Linked DNA regions of Homo sapiens. Each later gene encodes a partner of the first gene's protein in a complex. Each region holds a gene or a part of one and is shown in the gene's direction. Other genes may lie near its edges.

Region 1 (3,500 bases):
AAGTGAGAACATGCAAATTAATGCAGGAACAGGAAGATAGGTTTGAAATGTACGTTCTTCCTTTTTCTGAGAAAAGAATTGTTTGTAAGGAACTCAGGTGGAGATCAAATTAACAATCATGATTTTATTAAAATCATGCCCCAAGCAACAAAAACTAACCGGCTCATGATCTAAGGGAAATACTTGATTCTTTGGGCTGAGAAATTTAGGGAAATAGTTAAAAAATTCGTTGTATTTAGAATTTAAATGTTACCTTTTCATTTTCTGCAATTGTGAAATGAAAATAAATTCCACTTAACTTACACAATTGCCAAAATAATCAAATCAAAACTTATTAAAAACACTTTGTAAATTAGAAGGAATTATTTTATTTCTTTTAATTAGGTAGCTATCACCTCTCTGGAGTTCTGTTCAGGTACTTTTTTATTTTTAAAAGCAAACAATTCAAGAAGCTCAAATTATCTGGACTTTACCTACTTTAAATGAAGTCAAGTAGAGGAGATGAGAAATAAGCCCTACCTAGGAATTACAGGAAGACTGGGTCCTGTTACTAAGCTGAAATCTTGGCTAGAAGAAAGAGCTTGGCATCTTTTGCGGAATGCCATTAATCATCTTTTAAGGGCTTCATGGTCACTCCTGCTATACCGAACCACAAGCGGCTGGGTCTTCAGTTACAAGGGTTTGGAATAGAGCCAACCCATGAGGCTTGCAGCTAAGCCTTTTACAGTGGAAACGAGCTGGACTGGTCTTCTGTGGGAAATGAATCCTACTAGAATGCCAGAAGGCATACTGAGCAATGAGCTAAAAACAACAAATCATCCTGAGTGAAGCTCTTCTCAGATGCAAAGCGCAGACTAAATAGAAAAACAGAATCCTCGTTAGGAAGGAGCAGACAGCTGTGCTAGGCTGAAGGCACCAGCAGCAGGAGAAATACTCTTGAGCTGAATGAAGTTCTAATGAGTGGCAAAGGAAACACAAACTTATAAGCACATATCTCAATTCTGGGATGGAAAAGGATCAGATTTGGAGGTAGGGTCACAAACTGGACTCTGAAGGCACAACCAGTCAATGAAACATAGGAGAGTTAAAATAGGGATCCTGGAACAGAGATTCTCGGTAACCAGAAGTTCCCAAAAGTGGGTCTGGATTGTGGCTTTTGGAGTTTCTCTTGAGGTGTGGAGCTACTATGTGTGATAATCCTGCATGAGCATATTGTTAACAGCCAGTGCATGGCACAATGCCTGGGAAATTGGAGGCTGTCAGTATACGGTAGTTGAACAAATGCAAGTTTAGCACAGATTGGTGAAGTGTCCTGGGGGAGGAGTGACTGAGCCAAGTAATTCTTTTTGTTGCTTCCAGACTTACAAGTCCAGAATTCTTAAAAATTATACCTCTGTTCTGAACCCAATAATTAAATTCTTAGTAGGTTCTTAGCTCATCTCAAAAGATGTTAAAGAATTTAATAACCAGTTTGAGGAGAAAACAAGAATAAAGATGAGTAGAAATCGGTAATCTTTCCAGGCTTAGGTTTGGTGACTGCCAGACATTGATAAAAGAACAATTAAATAAGTAATCTACAAATAGAATGTGGGGAATGGGCATGTAATAATGAAACCTGAATGTGAATAGATCTGAGCTCACTTTATTTTTCCTCTTACTGTATAAAGGAGGAAACCGAGCCCACAGAGTTTTAACTTTCACAAATCCTCACGGAAGAGGTACAAACATGAGGTTACAGTGTAATTCATCCAGACCTCTTCCTGCTGTGTTTATAAACATGAATGTGCTAAAACATGTGAAAATATAAAACGTGTTTACAATTTTACTGTGCACACATATATATAGACCTTCCCTGAGATTTTAAATGACTTTAAATTACTGTCCTTCCAGAGGAAGTTTGTCTCGCTCATATAACTTACCAAACCTCCAACCATTTTTCCAAAGATGGAAGTGGCTATCTTTTCTGTCCTCCCACCTATTTTCTCAGCTGTCTTCTCCTCTGTCTCTGTTCAGTTACAGAAACACACAGGAGCTTTTCTCAAAGGCAAGTGGCCCAACACTTCCTAGAAAAGATAGATGCCAATGAAAATGTTATCAAAAACTGATAAAATGAGAGATAAAGCAAAACCAAGGTTTTACAGGTCACCTGCCTAATTCTTTTTGAGTCATGATTTCTTTTAGATCCTATGTGGAGACCTGCTCTTTTCATCAATGTGTGTGTGCGCATGGGCGCATGTGAGGCCAAGACGGACAGGAAAGAGACAGCTCTACTGGGAATTCTGTTTATAGAGAAAGAAACATAATCCCATAAATATTGATGCCAGAGAAACAGCGCAGAGTTCAACTGTGCCTAAGATTAGATTGTTGCCAAGAATGCTGGAAAGTATAGGTGTGAGCAGTTTCAACTAAGCCTGCTGTTGATAAGGAGACAGCTGTTGGCATAAATAAATGATATTTGGAGTCCGTAAGTATATAACTGAAAGAATAGGGAGACAACAGCCAGCCCTCTCCAGAGGCATAATAGCACGTTCTAATGATTGTTCCCTGTAAACTGAAGGACAGGGAATGAATTCACTGAATGAATTCAAGGAAGTGCGGAGGGGGCGTCCCACCATGGCCAAGCCTTCCCACGGAAGCTGGTGCCCACACAGCTGCAGCTCAGGCATCACTGGCCCCAGCAGCCACAGCACAAGGTGTGATGGAAACATGTCATGCTCTAATGACAACAACAGCTCCTCATCTGTGGCAAGGACACAAGGATTCTGAGAATTTCTAAATAATCAGGACCATTCCGGCTTGGAAGGGAAGCGATGAAAATACCATGGGGTTTATGTTTACTAAAGGCGAAGTTCAGAGGGATTTATGATGACCCTGCACACACGCAAAGCAATCCCTGACATCCTTGCTGCTGTGGACCTTCCTTTGAGTCAGATAATTCAATTACTGTAAAAATGTACTTTATTGCTTCAAAGCTGGGATCCCTCCATTTCCAGAGTGATGGCCATCAGTTAACCCAAGTGCACTCAGAGAAGTCAAATTCTGACACAATCCAGCAAGTAACTATAAAAACTGATGGTAAGGTTGAAATACTAGGCACCACTCTGGGTACCTTACTTGCAAAGTACTCATTCAATTCTCCTAAGAACCTGTGAATTAAATACTATTTTCCTTGTATTCTTGATGACTAAACCAAAGTATAGAAAATCTGAGACAATTCCAAAGGGCATCCAGTTGATAAATGTCAAAGCTGGGAACAGGACCCTGGCTAGTACAGCTACAGAGCCCATTTTGACCATGTGCCTTGAGATTTCATTTTTTCCCACCTTTGACTAGTTGTCAAATATAGGATGTCCAGTTAAATTTGAATTTCAGATAAGACACAAATAATTTTAGACAACAAATAATGTTGCAAATATTGCACAAGGCATACTTAACTAAAAAAATATTGTTTATTTGAAATTCAAAATTTTGAGGGTACCTTGTATTTTTACTTCCTAAAT
Region 2 (3,500 bases), on another chromosome or scaffold:
ACGTCATCTTAGCTCTCTTATCCTTTCATAGTCGTATCTATTCTCAATAGGTTAAATTTTGTGGTCAGCCCTAATTTCTCTCTGGAGCCTTAGATTTACATTAGCAACTGCTTGAACATACATGTTTTGTTGTTGTTTGGTTGGTTGGGTTGGTCGGTTGGTTGGTTGGTTAGCACCTGAAGCTCAAACAGAACTCTTTTTCTTGTTTACACTCAGATCTCTTCTCTTTCCCTTTTGATTGTGTCATCAGCCTCCCAGTTCTTCATTTTTGAACCTGGTTATCACCTATACTTACCTTTGTTCAGGACAATTCTATCACACATTAAAAAACAATCTATCATATTTGCTCTCCTGTCCCTGCTTTGCCATTTGTTTCTTAAGACTTAAAATCAGAATGAAGAATGTTCATTCATATGTGTTGTAGCTTTTAGGGTAATCTAGCTAGCTGCCTAGGATATATAGAGCAAATTGAGCTAGGCACTCAATGTAAGCTGTTTGGCTGAAGCATAGTTTAATTTAGCAGTTGCATTAGCTTCTGTGGGCCAACAAGATGCTGTTGATTGCTTTAAAATTTTGGAGAACGAAACTTATGATTTAATAAAATTTGATTTTTAAAAGTATGTGATTTCTAGTGATATAAAAGAGTTAAAATGTAAACTTAAAGACGATAGCTTTAGTACCTTTTTATCCCTAATAAAAATCTCATAATCTATGCTGTCATAGCACATTACACAACATTCCTATGGGCATTTGTCACATTGTATTACACTGGATTCTATAAGATATAAAAGGAGTATGAGGCTTGTGGGGTATGATATTTACTCTTGAAGAGTTCACATTCTAGTTTAGGAGATTCAGCACTGAAAAAGAATTTAAGACTCTATAAAGCAATATAACAAAAACTGAAATAGTTATTTCTAGGAGGAGGAAAAAGTTTTTAAGTGATAGAGAACCCAGCTAGATTTGATTAATTAGGAAAAGTTAGATGGAGTGCCAATTTTGAGCAAATGTGAAGGCAGGCAGAGATCTCAGCCGGTGAAGTAGAATGAAGAGGAAGTACTACAGTACCACAGGTGGCAGTTTGCATGTTAGGTCCTCACGACATGGACCTGGGGTGAGCGCCAGTGTGGAGGAGAGGATCTCAGAATGATGGCACTGCAGAGCAGGCTGGGTAGTAGAGGACCTTGAAAGTCTGGCAGATAATTTTGGATTATTACTACAAAAGAGGGGTTTAAACAGTTTTTTTCCAAATGAAATTTGAATGTTTTTCAGTTTTTTTATTGAAGCATTACATAGAGCATTACATTATATACATTAATGTATATTATAATATTATGTACATACATACATACGTACACACACACCCTCAGCATAAGTGCGTGTTTAAAGGTTAATGTACCAGTATCCACCACTCAGGTCAAGAAACCAAACAGCTTCAGGACCCCAGAAAGCCCCATCATGCTTCCTCTCAGTCTTAACCAATCAAACCCTCCCCACAACACACACATAACACAATCACAACCCATACACATAGTAATCACTGATTACTCACTGATAATCACTGAAGACCTTAATAAAAGAAAGAACACAAAGGAAATATACACCCACTTCACATGTTCCACAGACACTATTGGTGAGGTTTTTGTCCTCACCAGTTCATTTTTCAAACATTGTTGGATCATACAGTATGCGATCTTTTTGCATCTAGCTTCTTTTGCTCAACAGTACACTTAGGAGATTAATTCATGTTACTGAGTACTTTCATTCTCACTTCTTCTGTGTCTTCAGTGATACACAGTTCTGTCAAGTGTATATCTAGAAACTGAATTGCGGGGTCAGAGTGTGTGTGTGATTATCTTTAGATATTGCCAAACAATTTCTGGAGTGTTTGTACTCAGAGGAAGTCTTTTATAGTCAATAACCTGAAAGCTGGAGTGTGTCATTCACTTTTTTTGTAACCTCATACTCCTAAACATCATTGTAGACCTTGGTACAATTTTTGAATAAAGAAAAATGAGTGAAGAATGCAAATTAATGTATATATAGAAAAGGGAGGAAAAAATACTGATCAGCATTCAGCCAACATTTTTTGATCCACCATTGGGCCAGAACTGAAATAGCATGCCGTCGTCAAGCATCTGAGCTGGGGTGTAGAGGACAGAGGATAAGAGGATAAAAGATCTGGCATTTGAGGATTGAGGCAGGAACAAAGATCATGATGAACACGGAATGCCATGTAAAGGAAATTTTTTGTTTAAGGGATAACTTAGTCATTAAAGGTAATTAACATGGAGTGTTTTTCATTTAGAAGAAATAGTGTCTCCCATTCTAGAAGGGAAAGCACAGTTAAGGAGTCCATGAATGAAACTGTATGAAACTGACTTCAGTTTCATATGTATGAAACTGAATTCAGTATTTTAAGCAGTTATTTTAACTTTTTGCATTTATGTTTCTTTCCTTTTTCCATCTCAGGATCAAACACATATGAAGAGGCAGCTGCATATATTCAATGTCAGTTTGAAGACCTCAATAAAAGAAAGGACACAAAGGAAATATACACCCACTTCACATGTGCCACAGATACTAAGAATGTGCAGTTTGTTTTTGATGCTGTAACAGATGTCATCATAAAAAATAATCTAAAAGATTGTGGTCTCTTTTAAGTTTTGCAGTTCATGGTAAAATGCATTTTCAAACCAAATGAGTACTTATATATGGATCTCTGTAGACTAGAGTCTTGCAGCAACACAGAATGTAATATAAGGCAAATGCATCTGGGACTTGACCAAAGTTGTTCTGTTTTGTTTTTTTAACTGAAAGTAACAGAAGGACCTTTCTTAAATGTGACAGATGGTCCTGCAGTGTGAAACTGAAGGACAGTGTTAAAGCTGGGCTCTAGTATATTGATGATTTCTGCATAAGTGTAAATATGCAAATGTATGTATACATGTATTTATGACTTTAGTTTTCGACATTATTTTTAGGTTTTAAGAGTGGCAACTTAGGATTTTAGGGTGATGGCTTTGGAAATAACATAAATATACCTTGTACTGAATGACAGACTATTACTACGTTTGCCAGTTTTAAACAGCTTTATTTATGTTCATGTCCTGTAAATTTTTAAGTACAGTAATTAATATTAGGAAACATTACAGCCCTTATCTAGATTATATGTATACTTGTATTAATAAAAATGTTATTTGTACAAACATTGCACAGACTATTTTAATAACATGATTTGTTCTTTAAATTTTATGTGTTTTATTGAAATGTTCTTAAGATGAATACACCTGCCTTTGGATCAACTATTTAAACATTGTATGCATTTTGATTTTTCCTACTTTAAGAAAATAAAATAATTTAATTTTACATTAGATTCCACGTTAGATTTGGTTTGAAAAACTAAAATTTCAGATTTCTGAGGATATACTGTCTTAGACTTATTGTACACACTTAGTTTTTATTCACTTGTTTTCACTCTGAATTTTAATATTTGGCTG

Evidence for each region.
Region 2: the proteins of ADGRF1 (region 1) and GNAI1 are in contact, whole or in part, in a cryo-EM structure (PDB 7X2V), measured with the Homo sapiens proteins. Residues at the interface, in NP_722582.2 of Homo sapiens: Lys615, Gln618, Thr619, Arg623, Leu682, Arg685, Ile686, Val689, Phe690, His692, Val765, Lys768, Leu769, Arg771, Arg788, Ser792, Ile795, Leu796; in NP_002060.4 of Homo sapiens: Arg24, Glu28, Arg32, Leu194, Lys314 (codon at 2,538), Asp315 (codon at 2,541), Glu318 (codon at 2,550), Thr340 (codon at 2,616), Ile343 (codon at 2,625), Ile344 (codon at 2,628), Asn347 (codon at 2,637), Leu348 (codon at 2,640), Asp350 (codon at 2,646), Cys351 (codon at 2,649), Gly352 (codon at 2,652), Leu353 (codon at 2,655).

What each region holds. Positions count from the first base shown.
Region 1 is NC_000006.12:47,032,333-47,035,832, reverse strand, and holds part of ADGRF1 (adhesion G-protein coupled receptor F1 isoform 1 precursor), read left to right. Parts: intron 1-3,500. UniProt on the Homo sapiens protein: Adhesion G-protein coupled receptor (aGPCR) for N-docosahexaenoylethanolamine (synaptamide), an omega-3 fatty acid lipid highly enriched in the brain.
Region 2 is NC_000007.14:80,214,831-80,218,330, forward strand, and holds part of GNAI1 (guanine nucleotide-binding protein G(i) subunit alpha-1), read left to right. Parts: intron 1-2,472; coding exon 2,473-2,663; 3' UTR 2,664-3,500. UniProt on the Homo sapiens protein: Guanine nucleotide-binding proteins (G proteins) function as transducers downstream of G protein-coupled receptors (GPCRs) in numerous signaling cascades.